Homo sapiens: one gene and its partners. The protein of the gene in region 2 purifies or fractionates together with the protein of the main gene of each other region. This does not show direct contact. Each region holds a gene or a part of one and is shown on either strand. Other genes may lie near its edges.

Region 1 (10,208 bases), on a different chromosome or scaffold from region 2:
AGGGGCTGGAGTGAGGGATTACAAAGGCACATGAGGAAACTTTTGTTGGTGATAGACATGTTCACTATCATAGTTGTGATGGTTTCTTTGGGTGTATACATGCATCAGAATTGTCAAATTGTGTACTTTAAACACTTACTATTTATTGTATGTCAAGTATTTTTCAGTAAAGCTTGTGTTTTGGTTTGTTTGTTTTGTTTTTTGATCCTCTCACCTCAGCCTCCAGAGTAGCTGGGACTGCTGGTGTGGGCCACCATGCCTGGCTAATTTTGTTTATTTTTATTTGTAGACATGGGGTCTTGCTATGTTGCCCAGGCTGGTTTCAAACTCCTGGGCTCAAGCGATCTGCCCACCTCAGCCTCCCAAAGTTCTGAGATTACTGGCATGAGCCACCGCACCTGGCTGGTAAAGCTGTTTTAAAAATAAGTTTAAGGCTAGATGTAGTGGCATAGGCCTGTAATTCCAACACTACTACCATGAACTGCTCATACACGTCTATCCTCCTTAGTAATCTGGGACAGGATGCTGGGGACGTGTGTCTCAGTTCTCTCTTCAAAGACTCATCTCCCATTCCCACACTTACAGAACTAGAACCATGTACTCTGTGATTTCATTTATTATATGCTAAAGCGGTTTTTACAAAACAACAGAGGAAAGATCATTCAATATATTATAGTAAGAATGTCGGTTAGCTAACATTTGGGGGGAAATATAATTTTTTTCTATTTATTCTATTTATCTTTATCAACCCCAAGTTAATAAAAAATTAAATATATGTTATTAAATAGAATTGAGTATCTAATAGATCTTTGAACTGATAGCAGCTTTCTAAGCTTTGAAGGAACAAGAAGAGATTACAAGAGAAAAGATCAACAGATTTGGCTATATAAAATCCTGAAAGTTTGTACACTGAAAAGTACAACCAAAAAGAAAATAACCAATTGGTATGACAAAGGATTAATGTCTATATTTTATAAAGCATTCATGGAAATCTACCCAAAAAACATGTCCCCAAAGATAAATGGCCAGAGATACTTCACACAAGAGGAAATGGAATGAGTAAACAAGCATGTGGCAAAATATTCAACCTCACTAGTGGCTTTTTTTTTTTTTGAGATGGAGTTTCACTCTGTCACCCAGGTTGGAGTGCAGTGGCACGATCTCAGCTCACTGCAACCTCTGCCTCCAGGGTTCAAGCGATTCTCCTGCCTCAGCCTCCCGAGTAGCTGGGATTACAGGTGCATGCCACCACGCCTTGCTAATTTTTTGTATTTTTAGTAGAGATGGGGTTTCACCATGTTGGCCAGGCTGGTCTCGAACTTTTGACCTCAAGTGATCCGCCTGCCTTGGCCTCCCAAAGTGCTGGGATTACAGTCATGAGCCACTGCACCCGGCCTAGTTGAGATTTTTTAGTGTAAATTAAAATAATTACATTAGCAAAAGTTAAAAATAGGTGATTACCAGGCTGGCACGAGTATAGTAAAATTGCAAGAATCCTCCGAGAAAGGCTTTTTGGCAATACACATATGCTACTACAAAAGGATTCAGACTCTTTGACACAGTGCTCTCTTTCTAAGGGTTACTGCCAACCACTCCCCTGAATTAATCACAGATGCACCACTTCTCCCACATCTGAGTCTCCAGCCCAGATCATGCGCCTGAGCTCAGGACTGGGTCTATAAGATATCTCCAGGCTGATGTTCCCCCGCACCCTCAGCCCTGTGTCTCAGACTCATCTCCTCATCTTCTCCTCAAGCACACTCCTCTGCCTCCTCCTTGTTCCGGTGAATGCATCACTGAGTCACCAAGCCAGAAACCTGGGAGTCATCCTAATTACCTCGTTGTCCCTCACCCCTGCACATTCATCATTTCCCAGTCAGATCCTGCCAATACTCCATCTGCAATGTCTTTTGAGTCTTTGAGCCCCCTCCTCCTCAGCCCCAGAGTCACAAATCTAGGTCTCAGCAGCCTTCAGTTTCTTGCTTGTATTGTTGACAGAGACCTGACCCATGTCCTCCAAGCCACTCACATTTCCTTCAAACCATTCTACGTGGAGGAGTTTGAGTTATCTTTTTAAAGCACAACACTGATTCTGTCCTCCTTAAAATCTTTCAACAGCTCTCCATTGTCTACCCACAGGCTAAAGTCCAAGATCCTAAAGATTTAGCTGCCCTCTGTATTACAACCCGCTTCACCACCATTTTTTTCTCCGATAAGCTTCTCCTAGCTTTCCCTCCCCACCCCCGCAGCCTGCTTCTCATATTATTATTTGTTCCTTGAGAGCAAGAACTAGATCTTAATAATCTCTGCATCCTCAGTTCATAATGCAGAGCTTGACACAGAGTAAGCACTCAATAAGTGTTGGTTGAAGGAATAGATTTATTCTAAGGAAAATATTCAACTGAAGGAAAAAGCTGTTCACTGTAGCAACACGCATAATAGAGAAAAAGTACAGAAAACTAAATGTCCAACAACAGAGAACTTGTATTAATTGTGGGACATCCACTTAATGGAATATGATACAGCTGTTAAAGTAGTAATTATGAGGATTATGCAGCAACTTGGAAAGTGTTTCTAATATAATAAAAACAGAATACAAAATGGTCTGTATGCTAGGACTAAAATTATGTAAAAGTATGCATGCACACAAGCCGATCAGAAAGAGAACAGGAAGAGGAACAAATGAATACAGATGATGTGTTTAGGGTGTTTGGGGAGGTACTGTTTGCGATTTACTTAGCTCTTTCCAAATTTCCTTTATTGTTGTTAGAATGTCATTTGTGCATAAATACAAATTGAGAGAGAGAAATATACTGAAAAAGATGCTTTGATTTCCTCAAGTCCTTTGATAACCTATGGCATAAAAACAAACCACTCACCTGGGAGGCAAGAGACAAGTCCCCTCATCCCCAAACGGGCTGTGTGATCTTGATTAAGTGAGATCTGCAGCTCTAACCAGCCATTTCTCCTATCCTCTCTAGCTGGAAAGCACATGGTTATCCCCCCACTCCCACAGCAACTTCTCCACCATTTCTGTTAATTGTACCACCATCTTCCCAGTGCTCTCAGATTAAAAACCTCAGAACCAACTTCCATTATCTCATCACCTTCACCTTCTCTCTACTCCTCACCTCCAATTAATCGATCCTTTCCAATAATCACTTATAACATGCTTTATTGTGGATTGTATCCCAGTTTTAGACAAGGAGGAGTTCCTGCCCTCTTAGTTAATACTGTCTGCTTGGTTAATACTGTCTGCTTGAGAAGAGCCAACAATGTTTCCCTCTCTTGCTCCTCTGCAGACTGCTGAGGGGTAAAGTGGATGGTACAGATAGAGACTTGTGAAATGGAACCTCATGAGTTAGGAGCTTGATCTCATGGTGGGAAGAATTCAGGCACAGGCTGGATGCTCTCAGGGATAGTACAGTAGGACTTGGCACAATAAGTGGGATGCTGACTCCGTTTATTCATTCAACAAGTATTTATCAAGTGCTGGACACAGTGCCGAGCTCTCTGTTCAGTGGCAAGGGGCCTGCCCAGATGAATTAGGGCAGGCTCCATCCTGGAGGTGCTCAGTTTGGTGGAGGCCAGGTAACTAAATTTGTCCTTGCTACCTAATGTGCTGTGTGCCCTCACCAAGTTTGAACACAAGCCTCTGGGGCAAGAATGAGGGATTTACCCTGACTGAGGGGACCACGAGCCCACAGAACCAGAGGGACTTGAACTGTGCATTTCCAAGGCTGAGGTGTGGGATTAGGTGGTACCCAGGAAGGGGGTTTGGCTGTTTGTGGCAGTTCCAAGCTAAGGAATCGAGTCCACAAGCAGTCTTGAAAGAGCTGACTCTAGCCAGGCGCAGTGGCTCAGGCCTGTAATCCCAGCACTTTGGGAGGTCGAGGCGGGCGGATCGCTTGAGTCCAGGAGTTTGAGACCAGCCTAGGTAACATGGCGAAACCCCGTCTCTACAAAAAAATAAAACTACAAAAAATTAGTTGGGTGCAGTGGCGTGCGCCTGTTGTCCCAGCTACTCGTGGGGGCTGAAGTGAGAGGATCGCTTGAGCCCGGGCTGTCTGTCGAGGCTGCAGTGAGCCATGCACTACAGCCTGGGTGACAGAGTGAGACCCTGTCTCCCAAACAAACAAACAAAAAGAGCTGACTCCCTCGGAACAAACTAGCTTGGTGGGGCTTGAGCTTTGAAGTTTGGGATTGGGGAGAGAGAGCAATGGAGCCAGATAAAGTTCAGACCTGCTCCCTTACGGCAGGAAACAGAGGGCCAAGGGCAGTTTCGAAGCAGGATCAGATCTACATTTTAGTTAGATATAACCAGACGATTTCTAATATCCTCTCTCCTCCCTGAGTCTCTATAAGTGCCAAATGCGTTGTACAGGAAGCAAGGGGGAGGATGTCAGAGTTCAAGCAGAGAAGCAAGAGGGGGTTAAAAACGTTGTTGGCTCTTCCCAACTCAGTATGGGCTGCCTGGCTGGCTCAAGGGAACACAAAAAAGGGACAGACAAAATACGTTTAAGAAATAACATTAAATATTTATTAAAATGTATTCTATTGATTATATACAAGTTCTTTGTTTTGTTTTGTTTTGTTTTGTTTTTGAGACGGAGTCTCGCTCTGTCGCCCAGGCTGGAGTGCAGTGGCGCGATCTCGGCTCACTGCAAGCTCCACCTCCGGGGTTCACGCCATTCTCCTGCCTCAGCTTCCCGAGTAGCTGGGACTACAGGCGCCCGCCACTATGCCCGGCTAATTTTTTTGTATTTTTTTTTAGTATAGACGGGGTTTCACTGTGTTAGCCAGGATGGTCTCGATCTCCTGACCTCATGATCCGCCCGCCTCGGCCTCCCAAAGTGCTGGGATTACAGGCGTAGAATCATCTGTACGTGAGACTGGAAGTAAGCTCACTTTGAACTCTCCTTGAGGCCAGGGATGTTGTGTAGCTCATCTTTGTATTCCCAGCACCTAGCACAGAATAAGGCACACAAGAGGCGCTCAGCAAATATGGGAGGAGGAAGGGCGGAAAAAGGGGAGGGAGGAAATCGCCCTTAGGAGACACCCTCTTTCCGCGGCGGTTCCTCAACTCGGGACTTCTGACCTCCCACCAGCAGATGGCAAGAAAGAGTCCCGGCGCGCCAGCAAAGGGCTGAGCTGGGCGGAGCAGCTGAAAATCCGGCGCGCGCAGTCTCCAGCCCCAATTTCTACGCGCACCGGAAGACGGAGGTCCTCTTTCCTTGCCTAACGCAGCCATGGTAAGCCGTTTAGTTAGCGAGCTCTTAGGACGTATCCGCCTCCATCCTCCCCCGGCCGGGGCTGCCCGAGGTTTCGGGATTCCTACTGGGGATGGCCGGGCAGAGGCGAAGGGATCACGGCCTCCGTGGTAGGCCGGGACGGGCTCCAGGGCGAAGGGCGAACGCTGGCCTAGGGTTGGGGAGGCGCAGATCTGGTGCTGCTGTTGGGAAGGCCTCGGTTTCTGACCCGGCCATACGTCCTGATCCCGGGAGAAGCTGCTTTTCCTCCCGGGCCGGAGCCGCGGCTGGGCCAGGAGCTCAGACTGCGAGCCCGAGGTTGGTGGGCGCTGGGGGTGCCCGGCGGAGAAAGGTTTTCTTTGTCATTGCCTTTTTGGCACGGCCTGACTTTACCATACGTGGCCGGTAAGCATCTGGACACAGCATTAAAAAGGCTTCCTTACTCTTTTTAAAGTAAAATTGGTGTCAGCTTTTGGCTTTAGTGTACGAAGGAGCAGCACATGTGTTTGTGCGGATGTCAGAATCTTGTTCCATACGTGTCAAAAACAGACGGTAATAAATTGTGAAAACTTTAGAAACACAGGTAGACTCCTGGCTCATTTCTGTTGCTGTGCGTTTCACTAGTATGGTGTTCTTGAAAGACCCTAACCTCTAAGCAGATACAGTTTCAAACAGTAACATGGAAACACTTTAGCAAGGTTCTGAAAGATAGTAATCAGTAAACGTTCTGAAACATAGTAACCAAGAATATTCTCTGTTACAATAAGAAGGCTTGTTGCAGCTTATGGATCTCACGGTGTTTGTTAAATAACTGTGTTTGTTTCTGTTTTATCGGAACACTATACTTTAATATTGTCCACATTTTGCTGAAGATGAAACTAAACTAAGAGTTTAGTTTCACACTAGGTTTTATAAGCTGTTCTGAAACCTGATTAACAGCATTGCAATCTAAAACTTTCAGGCTCGTGGTCCCAAGAAGCATCTGAAGCGGGTGGCAGCTCCAAAGCATTGGATGCTGGATAAATTGACCGGTGTGTTTGTAAGTATCTTATATAAATATTTCCGTGGCCACTGTTTTTAAGTGTCTCCCAGGACTCATTTGGGGACCAGGCTAGGGGAGGAATATCTATTCTTGGCTTCCTCTGCCCTTGAAGGAGCTATACTATCTAGCTGTCCTCCACTTCCAATCGATTTAATATTTTTGTGCCTCATTTATTCCACATACCACATAGTACATTTACATGGACTCAGGATTCATGTTCTTAATGATCCTGGTCCTCTGACAGGGAAGATGCTATAAAACTTTAAGGTATGAAATAGTTTTGGATGCTTTTTACACCTCCTGTGTAAAAGTCCAAGTTGGGTGTAATATGGACGGTCTTGGTGTTCAGTTAGTGGATCTGGTGGACTAGGAGGTAGGTTTGAGTGCTTTAGTGAATCCCAACAGTGATTATCATTTTTAACGTTACAGGCTCCTCGTCCATCCACCGGTCCCCACAAGTTGAGAGAGTGTCTCCCCCTCATCATTTTCCTGAGGAACAGACTTAAGTATGCCCTGACAGGAGATGAAGTAAAGAAGATTTGCATGCAGCGGTTCATTAAAATCGATGGCAAGGTCCGAACTGATATAACCTACCCTGCTGGATTCATGGGTAAGAAGTTTTAAATACTCTGGAGACGCATATTGATGGCAGCCCTATGGTATCCAAATACTGTCTTGATCATTTTTCTAACCTTTGTAATCTGTCAAGTCTCAGAAACAAAGCCTGACCTTCCCTCTGTTTTTTACTTAAATAAAAAACATGCAAATAATCATGAAACGCTTTTCAAAACTAAATTTCGATTCACTTTTAAATTTTACATGCAGTCATGGGGTTTTGAAATATTGAAGATCTGGCCGTGATCTTTAATCTTCAGAATCCTTGTTGGATTAGAACTGGGAGGCACATGGGGGTTCTTTTTGTTTCGTAGAGAGCTATGGTTGTTGCTCGGCATGAGGTAGTGGGGATCACTGTATGTAGTAACCGGTTACTGCTTGATTTCAGATGTCATCAGCATTGACAAGACGGGAGAGAATTTCCGTCTGATCTATGACACCAAGGGTCGCTTTGCTGTACATCGTATTACACCTGAGGAGGCCAAGGTGAGTGTGGCAAGCAAGCTGGGTCTTTACTCAGTATAGTTACTTTGTTCTAAGGGCCTGCATTGAGTACGAGTGCTGCTTGCAATGAGGTGGGTATTGATTAGTTAAAATCTCATACCTGGAAATATCTAGCTAACAATTCGATGAGATTCTGTCTTACATGTAACTTTTTGTCATGTTATTAAAAGTCTGGCTGATAGCTGTAGGGCATTGATGGATACCTAAAATTGGCCCCCATTTGAAGTTAACTTCCTCAGCAGATTTTCTTTTTTTGTGGTAGAAATGAATTCCAGTTGAACCGCGACTTCCTGGTGTCTCTTAAGAGTCAAGGAGAATGATTTCTGGGAACTTGTTTATTGGGTACCTGACGTAGGAGCCCTTTGCCATGTCTCCATTTGTGGGAGTAGCTTTACTTTGGGGAGGGGAAGGTGTCGATGGAGGAAACAGACAGTCCTTGAGGCACTAGTTTGAGGTTTAAAAAAAGATTACAGTCTTTGATTATTTAATCCAGTTTGTTTTGATGGTTTTACACAAAAGTTTAGGGCTGTTTGGATTATTGGCTGTAAATGAAGGTTAATTTAATTGACTGATGTGGCTCCTAATTTCCTTTTGCACAGCCTTGTTAACAGCAGACTGGAGGGCACGTCCAGTGGGATCTGTGATTATTTGATTTACTTCAAGGATATCAGGGAGTAGAGATCCAAAATTGAAATGCTATGTGAAGTATTTGTTGATTGGATGAACTGGTAATGTAATTGCTGTTTGTGAGACAAAACTCAGTCGTGATGTACAGGGAGCCATTAAGATAAAGTTGAGTTGAAGGGAAGAATTCCCAGGGCCCCATAAGGCTTAAAGAGCCTGGGAAACTGGAGTGGCATTTACATTGGAGGAGTGGAGGGCAATGGTGGATGTTAGGAGGACGAGCCTAGAGAAGGGCTTTATGCAACATACACTTGAGGGTGGAAAGAACGATCAGCGTCACAATTAATCTGCAGCAGTTAGGGAACCCATGGTTCCTGTATAGGGTTAAAAAGTACATGTGAGATGGATTGAATGTGGCTAACCCTTGTATTTTTCTAGTACAAGTTGTGCAAAGTGAGAAAGATCTTTGTGGGCACAAAAGGAATCCCTCATCTGGTGACTCATGATGCCCGCACCATCCGCTACCCCGATCCCCTCATCAAGGTGAATGATACCATTCAGATTGATTTGGAGACTGGCAAGATTACTGATTTCATCAAGTTCGACACTGGTAAGCATCCTCTGTGCTACCTGGGCACCCTCTTTAAGGCCTAGATCATTATGAATTGCACAGGGTCTGGGTATCTTTATTAAAAACCATCTGCTCCAATCGCCCAGGTGTGTTTATAGCCAGAGGCACAAATGCTCAGAATACTCATTTCTTTTCTTTAAATTGTTTGTTTTTTATAGAGGAGGGTCTTACTGTGTTGCCCAGACTGTTCTCGAACTGATTATAGGTGTGAGCCACCAAGCCTGGCCACAAAATTTCTTACGAGAGTCCCGGGAGTCCTAGCATAGGCAGCAGTTCCATATGAGGAAATTCAAATGGGGGGAAAGGAGGAATAAAATTTGTTTGGACCCATCTCTGAGCTGCTTGTCATTTGTTATATTGAGTTGAAGCAGATTATTTCTTCCTGCCTAGGTAACCTGTGTATGGTGACTGGAGGTGCTAACCTAGGAAGAATTGGTGTGATCACCAACAGAGAGAGGCACCCTGGATCTTTTGACGTGGTTCACGTGAAAGATGCCAATGGCAACAGCTTTGCCACTCGACTTTCCAACATTTTTGTTATTGGCAAGGTAAGTCTGGGTTTTCCTTCTCTCTAGTCTGAGGAAATATGTAAATGCAGGTGGCTGCTGGGATTGTAGCATCCAGGCTCCTGGCTGGCTCTGCTGAACCTAGTGCAAAGCCTCTTCTGGATAGGACTCACGCAGAGCTGGGCTGAGTCATAATGATTAGCCTTAGGTACTACTAAACTTTGACTCACTTGAATAAATGGTAGGTGCCTGCTATGCACAATAAACTTCTAAGACATTAATTCTGAAGGGCATACGGTGAGTTTCATAGGACAGCCCCAGAAACCCAAGCAGTGGGTGCTTTTGGTAACCAGCATCTGTGTCTTGCAACTGCCTAGCTGATGCCAAGCACTCTCACAAACAGGCTTCAGTTCTGTTAAGTGAGGTGACAAATGTAGCATGTGCCAAGCCACTATGAGTTGGTGTGTGGTGGGTTTTGATTCTGCTTGTTTTCTCTTCCAGGGCAACAAACCATGGATTTCTCTTCCCCGAGGAAAGGGTATCCGCCTCACCATTGCTGAAGAGAGAGACAAAAGACTGGCGGCCAAACAGAGCAGTGGGTGAAATGGGTCCCTGGGTGACATGTCAGATCTTTGTACGTAATTAAAAATATTGTGGCAGGATTAATAGCATTTTGGTTTTGTGGGTTGTTTTTTTTTTTAATTCAGTTTCCTGCTATTTTACTGTATAACATGAACAGTGATTAAGTTCTCAGGCAGGCTTAGGCAGTCTGTTATTGGCTGGGCTTAGTTAGTGGTGGGAAGTAGAAGATACCAGACTTGGGAAAGGAACAGCAACTAACCAAGGAGTAGAAAGAGCCAAGAAATCCCGGAGTATTTATCTCCCCCGCCTTGACTTGGCCAAGAACTTCTCTACACAGTGGACCCCTCTGCCCTGTTAAGTTCCCTTGGCTTTCTAAAAATCTGCCCTCATTTTCTTCTCCAGTCTGTATTGCACTAGCCCATCCACAAGCCTGGCTCATCTGTTTTTCCCACTCC
Region 2 (9,499 bases):
AACCCATTCTCTACACAGCCACCAAGGCAAATATAGTTATGTCACTTTCTTGCTTAATGCCCTCAGGGCTGCTCATTATAAAATCCTAAAACTGGCCTTATAAGACTGGAGTCTCATTTCTCTCTTTCTTTTACACTCCAGCAACACAGTACTCAACAGTCTTCTCAGCTGGCCTCTGTGTTGAGTTACATGCCTTAGGAATTTCGCATTTCATTGAGCTGCATTGGTTAGAACGATCCTGTTCTGTCCCCTAACAATTTTCACTTCTTTGTAGCTTTTACAAAAGTGTTCTTAAGTGTTGTTTATGCAACTCTTTGTTTGTATGTCTTTCCCATTAGAGTTTAAATCCCATAAGGGTAAAAATTATCACTGCTTTAGCCACGATTTTATCCATTCACCTAGTGCAGTGCCTGACCTAGGGGCTTGATGCATATTAGTTTATTGAATGAATGAAGGGTTAAATGAAATGCAGGCTACAAAATATACAGTGTGAGTAAAAAAGGGACTAAAGAGTTCATGTGACCATACCAGGCACAGAAACTGGCTACTTCCTGTAGGAGCACGTGGCCTGGGCCCTTTCCTGAGGGGAGAGAAGGGAGAGGTGCACCCTGACTTGGGAAGAGCAGAGCTGGGTGGAAGTGGTGGCCTTGGGGGTTTCTGTGCCTTCTGCTTCCTGGAAGGGAAGGGGGTTCACCACCCAAGGTGCAGGGGTACAGGGGAGGCGGTGGCAGCCGAGAGACTGAGCTGTCAAGTTCCGTGTTTTGGGATAGGTCTCAGGGTGCACACAGTGCAGGCAGAGATCAACCTCTTGCACAGTAAGTTTCCCAACTAGGGCAGTGTCAGGGAGTGCCCTAGAGGACAAGAAGGGGAAGAGTTGCCAGGGCGAGACTCCGCCAAGCCACTTATCTGGACAATCAGCCACCACAAGGTCTCACATTGTACCTGGACTCTGAGACGACTGGGACCCTGGGGCTGTGCTTGAGAGCGTGACTGGCCACTGTGGGGGTGTAGGGGGACTGTTCGTACACAGGGTTCTCCCTGATACTCCTTTTTTTTTTTTTGGATAGAGGGTCTCACTCTGTTGCCCAGGCTGAAGTGCAGTGGCATGATCTTGGCTCACTACAACCTCCACCTCCTAGGCTCAAGCGATCCTCCCACCTCAGTCTCCCAACTGGCACCACAGACACGCACCCAAGCCCTGCTCATTTTCGTATTTTTAATAGAGAGAGGGTTTCACCACGTTGGCCAGGCTGGTCTCCAACTCCTGGGCTCAAGTGGTCCGCCCACCTCAGCCTCCCAAAGTGCTGGAATTCCAGGTATGAGTCGCCGGCCCCAGGTACTTGTTCTTGAAGACTACTCAGGCCTGTAATCCTAGCACTCTGGGAGGCTGAGGTGGGAGGAATGCCTGAGGCCAGGAGTTCGAGAACAACCTGTTCAACATAGGGAGACCCCTATCTCTGCAAAAAATTACCCAGAAGCGGTGGCATACTTGTGGTCCCAGCTACTCAGGAGGCTGAGGTGGGAAGATCACTGGAGCCCAGGAGGCCCAGGCTGGAGTAAGCCGTGACTGCACCACTACACGCCAGCCTAAGCAACAGAGACCCAAACAAACAAACAAACAAACAAACACCCAAAAAGGACTGCAACGGGTTGGGGGCAGGGTAATAAAGACACTACTTCCTCCACTTCTGTCAACAACCCTGACCTGGCTGGTTTGTCAGCCCTCCCGTCTCTGTCTTCTATGATGTCAAATTCTTCTGCCCACTTGGCTCCAGAAGTGGACTCCCATCCTCCAAATCACCATATCCATGCCAGAAAATGCCAGGCCAGCCTGTTTGCTTGTTTTCCCTTTTCTGCGCAGTGGGGCCCTTACGTCTCTGCTCAGCCCCAGATATGTAACTGTGCAAAGTCTGTCACTGAGAAACCTCTACTTGCATTTCACATCCATCTTCTTGGCTCCGAGTAGGACACTAAAGTCAATTTCTCCTTGTGACCCTGTGCCTAAGCCCAGGGCCCAATAAACACATTCTGAAGGAATGAATTCATCCATTTATTCAACTTTCCGGTATGCAAGAACTTCTTTTCATGGAGTGTCACGGAGGCCCTGAGGGAGGAACGGTAAACTGGGGCAGGGGTGTGCATAGCTCTAGGAACAGGTTTAAGGTCTAGGCTTTAGAGTTGGGGAAAGGGGAGCTATTACAGATTTCAAAAAGGCCATAACTGGCCTTAACCTGTGCAAAATCTTGGGGGTGAAAGGGCAGACAGGGAGTCAGGCTGGAGGTGATGGAGAAGTGAGGAATATGGGGAGGTCGTGGTAGTAGAGTTCACATTGAGTGGATGTGGGTTCTGAGTCAGGGAAGGTGGTGGCACTTTGTGTGTTGAGACTGGGTTGGTAGAAGAACAGAGCTCACCACATCTCTGGTATGGAGGGAGAGGGGAAAAGAGCAGAATGTGAGGGCAGGTGCTCAGCTACTGCTTCCTTCTTGGAGCAGGTGACCAAGGAGTTTGGCTATCACTCCCTGCCCATCCCAGGCTCCCTGCTTGGGGAGGGGCCTCCACTAACCTCCAGTGTTTTATGTTTTTAGTTGTGAGTCATGGCTGAAGAAAGCCAGAGAGAAAATAGGAGAAAAAAGGCGGAGCTGAAAATGGAGGCAAAGTCCATGGGTTGGGGACCTAGATGGCCCCCTTCAAGTAGCTCAGGCCTGGCAGCTTGTGCTGGGCTTGTGGAAGATTCCCTCTTAAGAGGTGAAATACCTCGGGAAGCAAGCCCCAGCACGGGTAGGGCTTGTGGGTCTGCGGGGCTGGGCCACTAGTGTTACCTGACCATGCCAGCTGCCCCTACCCCAACTGCACACAGGAGCAGGGCACATGGGGTTTTGCTGAGCACGTCAGCCAAACCAGGGCAGGGAAGGTGTCTTCGCCCTGGGCAAGGCCAAGAGGGACACGTGCAGTCTTGCTGGTCCCACAGCCGGCGGCACGCCTCACTCCTCCCAAGGGCTCATGTCAGTGTCGATGGCCACGCAGTTGTAGGCCGCATAGCGGAGCTTCTCCTCGCATACCTTGGCACTGTGGGAATGGGGACTTGGTCAGGTCCCTACATCGCTACCAGGGGTGATGGGGTCCCCTGGGCCCCAAATCGAGCCTAGGAAAAAACCCACCTGGCATAGTGTGGCAGGAAGAGGGTGCTGGAGCAAGTGGAAGACTCGGGCAGCGCGTCTGTGGTCTCGTAGCTGGGGGCATTGAGGGACCATAGGTCAGGAAGATGTGTTGGGGCACATGTACGTGTGTGGGGAGGGAGGACAGAAGGCGGCCATGGCACCTTCAGGCCTCCCTCCAGCACTCACCCCAGCTTGTCTGGGTAGATGTAGATCCGTGCTGGCAGGCGACTGCGGCCCGTGACAAAGCGCAGGAAGCGGCTCCGGTCCTCTGGAGGGAGAAGGAAATCAGTGCCTGCATGGATGGTGAGGGAGGGTCTACAACTTCTACCCTGCCTCTGCAACTCAGCAGCAGAGTCCAAACCCAGGTGTCACCCTGCCCTCCTCCACTGACCGTTGGTGAAGTTGTTCAGTGCCTCCCAGAAATACTGCACCCGCGAGTCAGATGGCTCGAAGTCCTCAAACCGGGCTGGTGGAGACAAGGCCAGCATTCATTCTTGGGTCTCATCTTGCCCAGTCCTTGAGCCCCAACCCCTGTGCTGTGCTGTGCTGCCCTGCCCTGCCCTGCCTTGGGGAACTCACTGAGCTTGCGCAGAGCATCCACAGTGACCTCTGGATCCCCACACACTTTCTTCTCCAACTCTTGCCAGGTCAGCAAGTCCAGCACAGCCTGTGGTACCACCTTCAGCAGACCTGCCTGCATAGCTGCCACCTGGGGAGTGGGTAAAAAGGCTTGGCTGGGGAAGAGGGCACACCTCCCGCCTCACACTGGGGGGCATCACTGTGGCCTTTTAGCAGCAGAAAGGTGGCACTGAGGAATGGTGGGGGCCAGAGTTCTTGGAGTACTGGTGGCTTACAGGCTGTGTTCTGGGTCCCAGGAGCTGGGGCTCAGGAGGGGCCAAAGCTCTCTGCTCTACTAGCCTCTGGGTACTACCTGCTCCTTGCTCTCCTCTAGCCGTGCCTTCTGGACCAGTTGGATGAAACGAGAACGGTCCCCATATCCCACGACGATGCCTGCACCCCCAGGGATCAGCTCCACCACCTGTTGGTCACTCAGTACAGTGGTGAATGTTAGTTCCTTCCCAAACTTGAACTCAAACGTCTCCTTGTCCATTCCTTCCATCACTTCCAGGAGCTTCACCTAGGGGTTGGAGAGAGGCAGGGAGGTAACCTTTTCACTGTGGAGATAGTCCCTGTCTTTCCACAAGATGCTCACAGGGAAGCAGAGACAGCCAGGCAAGGCAGTCCCCATGGAGGCAGCAGGGAATGAGGGTGTCAGTACAAGAGCTGTAAAAGCATCAAGACAACACCTAACCAGCCTTGGAGGCCAGAGGAGGCATCCTGTGGAAAATGGTGTCTCAGCTGAGACCCAAATGATGGCTGGGACATAAGGGAAGTTAGGAGAGAGAACATCTTGGAGAAAGCTGGAAAGAGCAAAAGGCCTAAGGAAACTGTGTGGCTGGAGCCTGAATGTGAACCAAGTGGCTGGAGACACAGGGTTCACGTAAGGCCTTTACAGATTCTGCATTCTATCCTAAGCCCAGGGCCGAGCCATCAATGAGTTTAAATAAGGAGAGTGAAATGAATTACTGTGGCTGCATGGAGACCAAACGGGTAAGAACGGAGACAGGGACACCAGCTTTTTAGTAAGTGATTAGCTAAGGAGGAAAGGTGTCCTCAACCAGGCAGGGAGACAGTAGTGAGACAGGAAAAGCAAACAGATTACAGAGGAAGACTTAAGAATATGGTGGCGAGGGAGAAGAAGGGGTGAAGGATGGCCCTGTGGGCTTTGGGATGGGGAGGAGTGGGACATGGTGCCCTTCTGAGGCAGGAGCCCTAGAGGGGAGTAGTCTTCGGAGAAGATAAAGAACACACTGAGCCTGAGATGCCATCTTGGGGCAAACGTCGAGGGTACAGATACATATATGGCCCCAGGCTTAGGAGAGGCTGGGGCTAGAGGTCAGGATTTTAGGGGTCACGAGTCTACAGACAGTAGTTGAAGCCATGGGAGTGGATGGATTGGAGAGGGATCTTGTGTGTGGTGAAAGAACAAGGTACAGAACAGCCTTAGGGAGGACCAACCTTTAGGGGCTGGGCAGAGGAAACACTGGTTCCAGGTCCTACTCACCAGCACAGAGTCCACAGCTGGGAAGTCCTTGCTCCAGCTCACCTCCTCACCAGAAAGCTGCTTCCACACAAAACCAGGCAGGGCCAGGACCTGTGTGACAAACACTCCCCACTGTCTTCTCACCCTGAGCTGCCCAGGTTTGGCTGGCCTTTCCTTCCAAGGGCCAGGGCTGATCGGACGGGGGTGTGGATAAGGCTACTCACCAGGAACTCCTTACCCCGAAGGGCAGCCCCCATCAGCTGTCCGATCCATTCATACTTGGCAAAGTCTCGGCAGGAGGGGTTGGGTACATACATGTCCCGAGCCTCACCAGTGCCATTGCCCTGCCCCAGAGACAGAGCTGTGAGTGTGGCATGAGATACACCCTATTTTCCTGGCCCAAAGACTTCCCTGAACATTTTCCACTGGGAACATTTTCCACTAAATGATCCCTTCAAATGCACAGTGGCTCCTCCTCTCCCTGTCTGCCCAGAGGTTGCCCTGAGCAACTCAGTCCCTCCTCTGCCCTATTTCTATTTTTTTTTTTTTTTGAGACAGAGTCTCACTGTGTCACCCAGGCTGGAGTGCAGTGGCGTGATCTCGGCTCACTGCAACCTCCGTCTCCTGGGTTCAAGCGAGTCGCCTGCTTCAGCCTCCCATGTAGCTGGGACTACAGGCGCGTGCCACCACGCCCGGCTAATTTTTTATTTTTATAGAGATGGGGCTTCACTTCATTGGCCAGGCTGGTCTTGAACTCCTGACCTCGTGATCTGCCCGCCTCGGCTTCCCAAAGTGCTGGGATTACAGGCGTGAGCCACTGTGCCTGCCCCCTTTCTAGCTCAATCTGGCCCCCTCCTCTGCCCCCTTTCTAGCTCAATCTGGCACCTGGGAGGTTTGCAGAGATGGAAACGGAGATTACCTGGTTGGCTGTGCGTACAAAGAAGGGCAGGGGCACGGGGGTATCCGCTGAGCTAGGGCACAGCTCTTCTGACATATCTGCCAGGCTGTCCCGGAAACCACCCCCTGAAATGACAGATGCCCTCAGCTGGGCACTCAAGAGCCCAGCTCCCATAATGGGGTAATGAATAGGTCCCCCATCATCATTAGCTGGTGAAAAGCCTCTACCACTTTGATAGGGCAGCAAGCAGGACCCTTGAGATCCTCCCTCAGGGCCTCACCTTGGTCAATGATGCCTTCTGCAATAAATTTACACTCCCACCACTGGTCATAGCGCATGGGCCACCTGCAAAAAACGTGGGCAGATTTGTCATTATGTGGGGCCAGGTGCAGCACAATTCATCAGCTCAGAGACCACCTGGGAAAAGCAGTCATGGCGAGGGGTGCCTCGAGCAGTTGTGTGTGTGTGTGTGTGTGTGTGTGTGTGTTTGTGTGTGTTTGTGTGCACAAACAGGTGTCCCGAGTAAGTCCCTCACTCTCATGCCATACCTGTAGTCCAGGGGCTTTTCATATTTGTCAGAGGGCTTGAGGCCTTCATATACCTGGAGGCAAGGAGGAAAGGAGTCATAGGAAAGCAAGACCTGGCCCTATACTTGCCCCAAGAACTTGTTCAGGTCCCTCTTGGCCTAGCCCCCTTGGCCCTTGACTGATCCTATCTCAGTCGGACCCTAGGTGGTGCAGACCTGGGTGAAGACTGCATTCTTGCAGGCAGGGTCTCGAGAGGGGCAGGCACGGTGTTCCATGGCAAGACGGCGGTTGATGTATAGGCGTGGCATGAAGCTGGGCTTGCTGCTCTCAGAGTCACGCAGGCACTGAGCCACCAGGCCTGGCCGCTGGCGGGACAGCAGTAGGAACTGCTTCACTTGCTAGTGAGGAGAGGTGGCCAGAGCAGGAATGAGTGGGCAGTCAGCCTCCGTCCAGGCCCTGGAACTTTCCCCTCTGCCTGTATCCAATTCCACCGTTTCAGTTCAAGTCTAGTCCATCCCTGTCTTTGTCTCCAGTCCCCTCCTTAGTTCAGCCACCAGGGAGAGCTTTCTAAAACAAAAAAATCTAATACTGTCATTACCTTCCTTACCTTTCCAACAGCTCCACTACCCTGGGACAAAGTCCTTGCTTCACAGCCTGGCCCACAGGGCCCTCTGCAACCAGGACCTGTCTCCTGCCCACATCCTTCCACCCTCATCCCTCTGTCATACTCACACCTACTGGCACACTTTTCTCAAGACATCTTGAGCTGCTGGTAACTCCCTGTATGTACCTTTCACGCAAACTGCCCTGCCTGTGCTGTCAATAGCCCTTGGGTATTCCACACACTCTGGAATACCAAGGAGGCTGGGGAACAGCCTCCCAAACACTAAATTTGGACCATTTGTTCTGGCTTTCTTCCTATGTTCCCAGACCCAGCAAAGGTCTTGCCCTAGAGTAGATTTTAGGAACTCTGCTAAGGAATGAACAACTACGTGAGCAGGAAGGGGAAATGCCAAGACCAGCACTGGCTGGGTCGGCTCACCTTAATCTCACTGAAGGTGCCCAGTGTGTGGTCCCAGGCAGGTACCAGGTGGTGCAGGACACTATCGAGGATCTTGATGAATCTGGCATGGGTAGATAGACTGCAGCTAAAGAGTTTAGCATACCTGTAACACCCCCAACTCCCCAACATAAAGGGACAGGAAAAGGCAGGACCTGGGGGCTTCTCTGACCCTTGAACAGCTTATACTATGAGACCTTGGGAACCTCCTCCATGCAGACACACAAGGCTCAATGTTGGGGGAAGGGAAGGGCCCATAGGTCCAGGACCACAGCCACCTCTGCAGGAGGACAGCTCTGCGGTACAGTACTTCAGGGTCGGTGCCTTCTAGGCGTGGATATCGCACCAGACTAGTTGGCTGGAACAGGTCTGCATTCAACCCTAGTTCCCGCTGTCTAGATGACTTGATCTTGACCCCTCGGAGACGAACATCAATCCCATCATCTGGGGGAAGGGGTCAGAGTAAGGTCATTTACAGCACCTGCTGCCTCCTTGGCCCTCAGACCTGGGACCGGCTCCTTGAACGCTCAGCCTTGTGTCACCGTTAGCCCCTAGAAACTCGGGACCTTCGGGATCACCTTCTATCACCTGATTCTGATTGATCTATTCCTGCTGATTCCTCTGTCTTCCACTAGAATGCTGGGATGCCTGAGGGTCCCAACTCAGTTCCTCTTCCAGGTGAGCCCAACCACCTGTATGGCTTTAAGGCAGGCCTATACCTGGCATGTCCCAGCTGGCTCAGGCCCCAAAGCTCCAAATCCTGGAGTTAGTTCAGCATCGCCTTCACCCCAACTCCAAGCCCATCCTCTTCTCTCCACACACACTCTCTGTTTGCCCCCATCTCCACGCCGGGCTCTCTTTCCCTCCTTATAGCCTTAAACCTCACCTCGGCACTCCACGATGCGGATCTCGATGATCGGGAGGTGGACGGTCATGTCCTCCAGGACACAGACATCCCCGATGAGGGTCCTGAGGAGATGAGTGTGAAGCACTTCAGATACCTCCTGCCTCAGGCCTTCAGAGACTGCTGGAGTCTCACTCAAACTTAGGCTTTCAAGCTGGGCTAGGCTTGGAACATGCCCTACTTCCCTCCCCAGGCCAGCGTGCTCACTCGTCAATGCTCACGTCACTCAGCTTCTTCAGGTTGTCCCCTTCACCCCCATAGACCACCACCCGCTTTGGCATAAAGTTGTCATCTGTGGTATCCACTGTGAGTAGCAGCTTCCTGAAGGGTCAGAGTGTGAATATGAGTCTTTGTGAACCCACAGGGACATAGCCCACCCACCCTGTCCTGCCCAGAGCCTACTTACTTGACAATGGTGCCCTTCTTCATAGTAAGCCGTACCCAGTGTTGGCACTGGGACCCATCGCTCTCCCAGTAGGTATCGGCATTGCTGTCTGTCAGGCAGGACACGTTGAACTCCTCCTGGGGAGGGGCAGAGACGTGAAGTCAGCAGTTACCCTCCCTCCCTGCACTGGGCTTGTGCTCTGGGCCAGGAGCACCAGAGAGAAAGCATAGTGAAGTTGGGCTAACAGGCAACTGGTATGGGATAGGGGGCCGCTGGGTATGTAAGGGGTCCTATAGACGTCCAAGATGGGGAGCTGAACTGAGTGTGGCCTGTGGGGACCCTGTTTTAGTCCTGGCCTGCAGGTGGGGGTTCTTTCTGGATCTAGCCTTGAGGGGTGTGACTATATCTTGCCTGGGGTGGGAGGAGCCCCAGCACCCACCGTGTAGGAGGAAACGTCTATGCT
Region 3 (10,222 bases), on a different chromosome or scaffold from region 2:
CTGAACTAATCTCCATGACTGCCCTCCACACCCAACATGAAAGCCTTTTCCAAAAATGTTTCTCTATATTCAGGGACCCCCAGATGTCTGCTATCTTAGACATCTTGCTTCCGCATGTCATAACATTGCCTCCATTCAGACAAATGAGGAGCAACTTAGATCCTGCTGCTTCCCTAATGTGTCATTCTCCTTCCTAAAAGCTTGGTTTGGGTCCGTTATTCAGTAGCAGCACATGGCCATAGAATCTCTCTTCTGGTTTTGCACACTTTCTGCTATCTTTCCTCTTCCTTTGTGTTTAATCAGCCCTGTTGACAATATCCAATGTGTCTTTCTTATGTGATCTCTCTTGGAATCTCAGGATTTGAATGACTTTCATCGTAATGAAGGCTTCTGCAGAGTAATTGATTTTGACCATGAGTACCTGTTGAAGTCACAGCAACTTCTCCTTCTAGATTATCTTACAGCAGTGGACCAGACAGCAGTGCTCAAGAGAGGCAAGTATGTCTTTAAGGAAGCTTCCTGCTTGCCGGGGAAAGCTGCAGAGTATGTGGCATTCAACTGTCATGTCTACATCCATGTTGAAAAAGTCTTTCGGCTTTAAGGATAATCAACCCGCGGTACTCTTTCTTTAAATAAAGGTGTGTTAATGAGTCTGCATTTGGTGTTTTCAGTAACTGTAAGGTACAGGACCAAATAACAGTTGTAGTATTTTTAGCTTTACCTTTCATGTTCAGTAGTTATTCTTGAAATAATTTGAAACAACAACTGACCCTGCAAAATTTGATTTACCCAACCATACCTGGTACCAATATGGGAACTACAGCAAAAATTGCCACATTTGTGATGTGGCACAAGGCCATTTTTTTTCTGGAAGTCTTCATAAGAATAATAGTATTTTTTTAAGGCTACAAATATTTTCACAAGCATGATCTCATTTTATTCTTACAATGAAGATAGTTTGGACCCCTAAGAAATGTAGGCAAGCTTAATTAACTTACATATTGCACTGCAGTCTTTGTGAACAGTCTGTTAAATGCATTATTCAGCTGTCAGTGATTTAACATAAATGAAGTTATCTTGACCCACTGTATGCAGCATATGCTTTTAGGACTCTGGAGTTGCAAACTCACTGTCCACAAAGATGCATTACAGTCATTCTGCTGGTGTTTCCCAGTCTGATTTTTTATAATCAAAGATTTTGTTTAAATAAGGCTGTCCTCTATCTCTCTCCCTGAGCAGGAGGGACCCACTTCCAGTCACCTCACTCAACCCCGTGACAAGGTTTGGCTGCTAAATAGAGACAGCCAAGTAAAACAGCTGCTGTGAGTCCTGGCCCAGGTTTGCCAGGTCTTGCTATCTTTGTGTATTTGCATATGTCATTGGGGTATCCGCCCCTTTTTCCTCGCGTGAGAAGCTTGTGTTTCTATAAGTAAATAAATAATATAACTAACCCACCAGAAGAATAAACCACTCTGTCACAGATGGCAGAAAAAAGCTTTCCGTGTATCTCACCATTCCCTTAAGAGCATGTTTTCTTTTCTCCCTAGAAATGCTATCAAACAAAAAGTGGTTCAATACTGGCATCCTGTGGCTGGAGAGATTTATCAAATCTCTGAAAATCTCAGCTCCTTGGATTCTGAACATTCCCTGGCTGTCAGTTCTCAGCAGCCTTTCACCATTTTCCGAGTGCTATTTGGTTACCTCTCATTTTTCATGGAAACAACCTAGGTAAAATGCATTTTGATAGACTATCATTTTCACAGGGCTGATCTACTCATGCATTATCAGGGTAAAAATAAATGATAATATAAAGGTTTTGGAATTTTACCTAATGAAAGAACATGATATTAAATCATTGAACAAACTGCTCCAAGCAAAGGCTCTTGGTCTCTAAGTTCACATTGAGTTTCTCTCTAACAAAATGATCATAGAGTAGTTGGGAGAAGGGACAGGGCGCTGCTTCAGGATTTTGTTGTTTGTGCGTCTGTGTGTGAGTGTTTTGTTTTGGCCAAAGGCTAAGAAAATACTTCCTATTGCAGCAATAAATATTATGAATTTTCTTTATTTTACTACAAGAATGCTGCCTCAGAGAAAAATCAAACAAAATTACGGAGGACTGTTGCTTTTTGCTACTCACTTTCAAGGCAGCTATAAAGATAAAGAGTTACAATGATCGCAGTTTAAAAGCAGAATTGCCATGCTCCCTGGTAAGACTTAATGGCATTTTTGAGAACCAAATAACCATTATGGGACTACTCCATTGCTGCTAGTTTCACAAATGGCTAACACTAAATTTGGAGGCCTTGGAAATGTTCAAAACATCATTAGAGATAGAAAAATAGCAACAAACTTTAAAATTACATGAACACCAAAAGACATCAATGAAGGATCAAGCATGAAAACCGCTTGTTGAGATGAACTGACAAAGAAATAATACAAAGTACACACGTGCTTGTTAGCAAGAGGAAAGAACTATTAGAGTTGGCTGACTCCAAACAGGAGGAACAAAATGCCTGCTAAAGTGGGATCGAACAATGGCTTTGCTCTTTCATCATGCTCCCTTTCTTCTAGTCTAACTCTAGGACCACCAGCTCTTTCTTCCTCAATTCTCTTAATTTTCTGTGCTGCTCAGGGGTTTTAACTGTCTTGGTTAGTATGGGAGACAGACAGATTTCACAGCGATGAGTGCTAATCTATCCTAAATGTTAGCAATGAATAAAGCAACCCTAATGGTAAATGGTATTTAATAAGATCCCTTTTCCCTCAGAACAGGCTCTATATTTAGTGTCTAGAACACAGAAAACTTAAAAATATTCCACAGAAAGCTAGTGTGATCTGAGAAGAAATAGAGATTAAATACTCAGTTAAGGCAATCAGTGTGCCTGTGTCAGCCATAAAGCACCTCATTTGTATAGTAACATTTCTTTGGGGAAACAAAATCCAGATATAAATATTAGTATAAGATCTAAAGATGCAAAATTCCAATTGAATGCTAATAAAAGGTATTAATAAAACTCTGCTTTAAAGGACTGACTTCTCAATGAGTCTGCACAGCACACTAGAGATTCAATATGCATATCAAGGTTTTTGGTTGTTTGTTTTTTTAGTAACACTGGCATTATTTATTAATAATTTAACCAGAAATCTCCCCAAACTTTTAACTGGAATTTAAAAAATTAATTATGGTAAAGTAAGTAAATTAAAACAAAGAAAAAGTATGAAAGCTATGTTCTAAACTCACCACATTCACCAGCGAGAATAGATCTGCCCTTCTGGCTATATTTGTTACCTACCTATCTCTCTCTCTCTCTCTGTCTCTCTCTCTCCCTCTCTCTCTCTGTCTCTCTCTTTCCCTCTCTCTCTCTCTCTCTCCGCCCCCCCCACTTCCACAAGGGATCCAGTCTAGAAAGAGCATGAACTTAGAAGTCCAGCAGATGTGGGTTCAATTCCTAGTTCTATGGTTTAAAATACATACACTCAAAAATAAATTCTCCATTTTCCTGAGCTCTGGTGTTCTCATCTGGACTTGGGAATAATAGCACCTCACACATCAACCTTGTTGAGGATTGCTTGAGATGATCATGTAGGGGAGAGGACTCAGGAGAGCCTCTGACAGAGAGATATGCTTTCAACACAGGCTATTCATAAGCACCCTTCCTACCTAGTCATCTACTATGTTTTCTCCTCCCCCAGTTTAACTGGTCACCAAGTCTTGCTGATTTTTCCTTTTAGTATGTTTCACTTTCTCTCAGACCCTGCTGATACTGCCTGTCTTCAGAATCCCCCTCAATTCTCATCAGGATTGCTGCAGTAACCACCAAAGTCAATATTCTGTCTTCAGCCCCAACCTATCTTAATCCATCCTCATAACCCCCAGGGTGATTCTCCTAAAATATAAAACTGCCTGAGTTTGACTTTCAGCTATTCTACTTTATATCTGTATGACTTGGAACAAGTGACCTGAATTCTCTCATGCTATAATTCAAAGCCTATTAACTGGGGATAATAATTTTCCTACCTCAGTAGGATATTATATGAATTAAATAAAGTCTTGTTCCTCTCCCTGTGTCCATGTGTCCTCATTGTTCTACTCCCACTCATGAGTGAGGACATGTGCTGTTTGCTTTTCTGTTCCTGTGTTAGTTTGCTGAGAATAATGGCTTCCAGCTTCATCTATGTCCCTGCAAAGGATATTAACTCATTCTTTTTTATGGCTGCATAGTATTCTATCATATTTATGTGCCACATTTTCCTTATCCATTCTATCATTGATGGGCATTTGGGTTGGTTCTAAGTTTTTGCTATTGTAAATAGTGCTGCAATAAACATACGTGTGCATGTGTCTTTATAGTAGAATGATTTATAAACCTTTGGGTATATACCCAGTAATGGGATTACTGGGTCAAATGATATTTCTGGTTCTAGGTTCTTGAAGAATTGCCACACTGTTTTTCCACAATGGTTGAACTAATTTACATTCCCACCATAGCACATGTATACCTATGTAACAAACCTGCACGTTCTGCACGTTTATTCCAGAACTTAAAGTAAAATTTAAAAAAAATTAAATGAAGTCATACATGTGCACTCACATGTGGAAGCTGCTATTGTTCTCTCCATTGTTCTTGTTATTATAATCCTTCATGAGTCACCCTTCCTTTTAAGGTAGCGTACAGTCATAATGTTTAAGGCATTTGCAGGCCACTGCCTAACTCCCCAACAAATCTCGTGTCACTCATCAAGTTACATATTATGATATAAAATCACTAAACTGCATTCAAACTAGAAGGAAAATAATTAGGTTAGTAAAGGATTCAAAGAGAGATTAGGTCGATTAGAGAACTACTGATAAAATTTCATCTAAAACAAAGCTGTTTCTCCTAAGAAGTGATTACAGCAGCCCAAACTAATATCCAAAAGGATTCAACGGCTGTACCCTAAATGTCCTTCCTGCCAAAAAGCAGTTCCAATTAAAATGCCATAATGTTCTCAAATCAATTGTGCCACTTACATTTTTAAATGTTAAGTATATTATGTATGCACACCTTTATGGGTTTTCTACATGGTGTTGCACAATGTCCTGAAAGTATTTAAAATTCTTACCCGACATTATTCTAAACCACCTGGGTTTCTTGTCCCATATAATAAAGAGATAATACGCAGGGACTCCAGTCAGAGTGATGACGAAGCCAATCCCTGTACTAAATGGGTCCGAATAGAGGGAAAGGGCAACCATGAAGAGGCATGTGAAGGAAAACAAAGCTGGGATGAACAGTGGCACCTGGAACACAGAACACAAAAAAGTCACTTCAAACATGTTCAAGCAACAGAAGCTGGGTTTGAGATGAGCGTGTCAGTCATGACATATACTTTAGTGATATGCTGTAGTCATGCGACCAGGTAACAGGCACCAACGTGCCTTAGTAGCAAAATCTCTTTCATGGTGCACAGATAATGTATTAAACGTACTCCCTTAAATGTAATTCAACTTAATTTAAATTGTTTTTAAATCTTTGGCTAGAACAAACTCTAAGGACAAAAATGGATACTTTATTAGAGATGTTCTGTTGGAATTATTTTACTAGTTAAATGCCATGATGATTTATGGTTTTGATTTTAAAAGACTGGCTCTTTGATAATTATGATTAGAACCCACTTTAATGTGGAGTCAAGAGCACCGGCTGCTTGTTACATGTTAAAGTCTTTCAGTGCATATTGATTTTTCTGTTGAGATCCACAATAATAACTGACAGGAATAAAACAAGCCAACTCCTATTCAACCGCTAATAAAGATGCCACCAGCATTAGGCAATGAATATTACTAGAAACAAATCCTGACAACATGACTGACAACCTTATCTATGCCATTTCTTAAAAACAAATAAATCGTGAGGTCAAATCAATCCATGAGTCAAGTCTGAAGAAGATGACAAGCTTTTTCTCCAGTCCTCCAAAAGGGAGATGCTTACTTATGGTAAATGGGTATCAAGTGGTAAATTTGTAGATCTTCTCTTTCCCTGTATATTTTACATTTCTATTCTTTTTGGAGTGTATAATATAGAGAAAGAGCAATGTAACAAGTCACAACATTTAAGTACTTAAAATGCCTATTTTGTAAAGGCAAATTCCTTTTTGGAATTGGCATTAACAAAGTATCTCCCTTACTCCTCCTCACCATGGCTGTCCACAACTCTAGCATAAAGACAGACAGAAGTAGCCCATACTTTGAGTATATCAGGTCATTGAACACATTCATGAAAAATCAACATACCAAACATTCATTCATACAGTCATTTTTCAAAAATTTGACATACAAAGTTCAAGCCCATCACATAAAAAATTGGATCCACTGTTTTTTTTCCAACTTAAAATAAATCCAACAGGAAAGCACTGCCTGCAAGAGTTAAACATTTTTATTCCACAGATGCTGCCCCCAGCCCAACCTCCCCATCAGCAAGTTATGACAAAGGGAGGACTAGGTATTAGGAGAGAGATTTATGTAAACCCATCAAGATTGCTGAGGTTACCTTGAAAGGACGATGCATATCTGGGCATTTGTATCGAAGATAAATCAGCCCAGCAACTGCCAGCCCAATAAAAAGCCACCTGGCAAAACTGAGGAAATTCAAAAGACTGTCGAGGTCTCCAGAGAAGAGCATTATCATTGTCAAAGGGTGCTGAGGGGGGAAAGGGAAGCAAGCTTGGTGAATTCAGTGAAAACACAGATGATTAACAACAAAAACCTCACTATGCATTACGACCTTTTTCAAATAATTATTTATACCGATAAATTATCATCATAGTTAAAACTTGGATTTGACTAATCTCTTTTCTATATTCTGTTGTCATAATCCATTTACACACCAGTAACAGTATGAGAGTGATATGGCCATTATACTTTATTCAAGTGGAATTCTATATGAATGTTGTGTTGTGTTTTTAGTTCCTTTTGCATTTGAGAGAAGATAGTATGTCTTCAAAGAGTAAAAGAAAGGTTACTCAATGACTCAAAATTGAAAGACTCAAAGATTGAGATGATTAGTAAATAACCGATAATGAACAGTAAAAGAGGCCCAATTGGAAGATTTACAGAAAGCTCTGCAAATGCTCTCCGGTGAGCTCTTGGCTATCCACACCCAGGAAACACAGACACTCATAGGTGATTCTGTTGGCTCTTGATTGCAAAACATTGACCTTTTTTCCTCCACATTTACTCTCCTGGTGTGCTTGCCGTGTGTGACCCTCAAGACCACGGAGAAGAATGAAGCGCAGAGATCAGCTTAGCAAGTCTCTGCAGCTGCACATGCCAAGGACAGCATGACTGATAGCAGAGGCTTAAAATGAAAGCCCTCTTCACGGAATAATACATTCTGTTCCCACAAGTGACGTTAACATCCAGATTCTGCACAGAGAGTACACATACTTTAAAAAGAAATTTCAAGGAAACGTTCTGAAACAAATTAAATGCATGAAAAAAAAATGTTCAGTGCATTCTGTGGTGCTCCTGACAACAGACTCCAGTTGAGAGAAATGTTACAAAATCATCAGTAAAAATGAATATAACATTGCCAATGGGTATTTGAGGACTTTTACACCTCATACAGTCTTTTGTAGCTCACATTTCACACTTTGCTCTGCAGAAAGAATTTTACAACTCAAATTTACCTCGTGGTGCTTTTATTTTTATCCTGCAGGATAAAAGACACTTGCTCTCAAATGTCTCAAATGAATCATGGCACTGTCTAGGATTTTATCAATTGTTTCAATAATTTTGTGTGCATTTCATTATAAGGTGCCTAGATGATACATCTGGGTACTTTTTGGACTGTAGCTTTTTGCTCTACTTTCCTTAAGTCATTGGGACTTAATACTCTACATTCTTTTCTGTGAGGTGCTATGTCAATGAGAGGAGCCAAGCCAATCATTTTCCTTAGACCTTACACATTTCTGCAAAGATGAAAGTGAGGTGATGATGATTTTTGCCCCAAAGCATCAAAAAAAATAGGCATCAGAAACATGGAGTAAAGGGAAGAGATGGAAGATATCCTGCCTCCCAAACTCCACCATGACATACATTAGCAATGAATGAGAAAGTAAAATACTATCTAATGTCTGGTTGGAATTCCTTTTTGCTAACCTATTATTCAAGGTTATATCTAGATATACTTGTTAATATGCATTACCAAAACAATAACAGCTGGTAGAGGAGTGTGCTTGCGGACATGAATCATGGAGAGGATTTCTGGAAGGTGACCCTCTCGAGACGCAACATAGAATAACCTGATGGGAGAGAAATGTGGGTGGAGTTGACTGTATGATTGATCATTTCAAAGGGAAAATCCAAAAATCCCAGAGAAAACGTGCATCTTTTCATACCAAATGGTCAGGTATTCCTTAGGTGATTGCCTAAGTTCACTTTTCAAATAAGGTGGAGAAATATCATAGGAAATCTAAATTTGGATTTTACAAAATCTGCCAACATTATATTATTCTTTGAAGAGAAAGAATAGCAATATCTGACTCAGCATAGCTCTCTCTACATATAAATAGCTGATGGGAAATCTAGTTCTAGATTCCTAGTATTATATGTGTGTTGTCAATCCAATTCAACAAACACACACACATGCACATCCACAGGTACACACACCTATATGTAGCATTCACATTTATCTGATTGGCTTTTAATCGTATATTAAAACAAAAAGACTATTGCATCAAACTAAACAAAGGAAATACTGATGGTAGGGGTGGTGATTTCTGATGTCTCTTACTTTACTTTTTTCTTGGCATCTTCAGAGAAACAGAAAATTATATCACCAGAAATAAAATGCCATTGTTAGACTGTGGAAATACTATTTTTAAAAAAGCCACATGTCCGTCTTCCAAATAAGCTATTAATAGGCAAGCAGTGCCCTCTAATGGACAGAATAAAACGTGCTGTTGATACTTGGACCAATATTTCAATCTTGCATGTCCCTTTAAAAACAACAGGTTTGGAGGCACTATTTCTTTTCTTTTTAAAGTTATCCTTATCACATCCAATCTCAAAAACAGAAATGTGTTTCTGGAAATACATGAACTCACTCACCTGGAGACAGCAAACACACCACCGTTCATGGAGCCAAAGCAGGAGAGGGCAACAAAGATCGGAACTGCTAATGAGAAATTTCCCAGTAGCCGCTCAGAAAAGGTCTAGTGAAAGAAAGAACGAAGCAAATTAATGCCTTGCCAGAAAGTGGAATAAAATGAAACAATTTAGGCCAAACTTGCTCTATGACTTTCTATTAGCCTGGTGATACTTGTATGTTTTATAATTTCTCTCTTTGGTTAGGGTCAGACTAACTCCGTAGACAATAATCAAAAGCAAGGACCATGGCATTGCTTGTTGCAAAACTATAGTCAAAGATCTAAACAAGCACCTTCTCTCTACTTTCAAAAAGCAATGATCCATTTATCGAATCTTTATCAACTATGATGTGTATTGTCTCTGACTCTGACAAGTGATAAAAGCTCAAATCAGAAGTTCTACTGGAGATAGAAATCTTTCTGTATAATACGTTCTCTTTAGCCTGGAAAACCAAATTTTATATTGAAATACACTGAGAAGTATTACAGATATGTGTTTCATATGCCAATCCCATTCTTAGGAGGTAAATAAAATAATTGATGACTTAATAATTTATAGCATATACATGAGTAGCTCTGAAAATCTTTTTCCCAGAAAATCACACTAGCTAAATCTCTGTTTATAAAGTCCCTCCCTCCCCCTCATGTATGTGTCAATTTCTTTTGTGGTTTCCTATAAAAAGGCTAGAACACAAATATAAGTCCGATAAGCCACAGAAACTTAAAAGATAAACACAACTTCTAAAATGTTCTTTTATGCCATGATATGTGCGATATTGCAAATTTCCATGAAGGATGTATTTTCCAAAAAAAGAAAATGTGTTGGATTCATTAGTTGTCCTTGATGCAGCTGGTGCTATGCAATTAATGGGCCACATTATGCCCAAAGAATAAGTGCTGCCCTTTGTCTCAAAAGATGAGATGACTGACCTGACTTCAATAAGCTTTGTATATTTGATTGTCTGGTGGGACTTAGAGCAGTGGTCGAAGTCTTTTTCAATGTAGTGAACTCATACACAGGTTCAAATGAAATGAGATAATTTATTCCCTGTAGATGCTGCTGATATGAGGTAATACTAACTATTTTAAAAGGAAC

The links.
Region 1: the proteins of HECTD3 (region 2) and RPS4X purify together in Homo sapiens (affinity purification with mass spectrometry; 3 studies listed by BioGRID and IntAct, with this or other methods). This does not show direct contact.
Region 3: the proteins of HECTD3 (region 2) and SLC7A11 purify together in Homo sapiens (affinity purification with western blotting; 2 studies listed by BioGRID and IntAct, with this or other methods). This does not show direct contact.

What each region holds. Positions count from the first base shown.
Region 1 is NC_000023.11:72,272,237-72,282,444, reverse strand, and holds the start of RPS4X (small ribosomal subunit protein eS4, X isoform), read left to right. Parts: upstream 1-5,196; 5' UTR 5,197-5,249; coding exon 5,250-5,252; intron 5,253-6,210; coding exon 6,211-6,288; intron 6,289-6,720; coding exon 6,721-6,901; intron 6,902-7,294; coding exon 7,295-7,392; intron 7,393-8,472; coding exon 8,473-8,644; intron 8,645-9,055; coding exon 9,056-9,213; intron 9,214-9,672; coding exon 9,673-9,774; 3' UTR 9,775-10,208.
Region 2 is NC_000001.11:45,000,511-45,010,009, forward strand, and holds the end of HECTD3 (E3 ubiquitin-protein ligase HECTD3), read right to left. Parts: coding exon 9,476-9,499; intron 9,174-9,475; coding exon 9,058-9,173; intron 8,973-9,057; coding exon 8,859-8,972; intron 8,717-8,858; coding exon 8,634-8,716; intron 8,192-8,633; coding exon 8,026-8,191; intron 7,812-8,025; coding exon 7,730-7,811; intron 7,086-7,729; coding exon 6,903-7,085; intron 6,762-6,902; coding exon 6,709-6,761; intron 6,506-6,708; coding exon 6,441-6,505; intron 6,286-6,440; coding exon 6,182-6,285; intron 5,607-6,181; coding exon 5,487-5,606; intron 5,374-5,486; coding exon 5,284-5,373; intron 4,297-5,283; coding exon 4,090-4,296; intron 3,868-4,089; coding exon 3,738-3,867; intron 3,625-3,737; coding exon 3,550-3,624; intron 3,427-3,549; coding exon 3,345-3,426; intron 3,231-3,344; coding exon 3,159-3,230; intron 3,067-3,158; coding exon 2,982-3,066; 3' UTR 2,038-2,981; downstream 1-2,037. UniProt on the Homo sapiens protein: E3 ubiquitin ligases accepts ubiquitin from an E2 ubiquitin-conjugating enzyme in the form of a thioester and then directly transfers the ubiquitin to targeted substrates.
Region 3 is NC_000004.12:138,174,114-138,184,335, forward strand, and holds part of SLC7A11 (cystine/glutamate transporter), read right to left. Parts: intron 9,193-10,222; coding exon 9,089-9,192; intron 8,281-9,088; coding exon 8,184-8,280; intron 6,678-8,183; coding exon 6,528-6,677; intron 5,282-6,527; coding exon 5,104-5,281; intron 4,065-5,103; exon of another isoform or gene 1,548-4,064; intron 675-1,547; coding exon of another isoform or gene 598-674; exon of another isoform or gene 1-597. UniProt on the Homo sapiens protein: Heterodimer with SLC3A2, that functions as an antiporter by mediating the exchange of extracellular anionic L-cystine and intracellular L-glutamate across the cellular plasma membrane.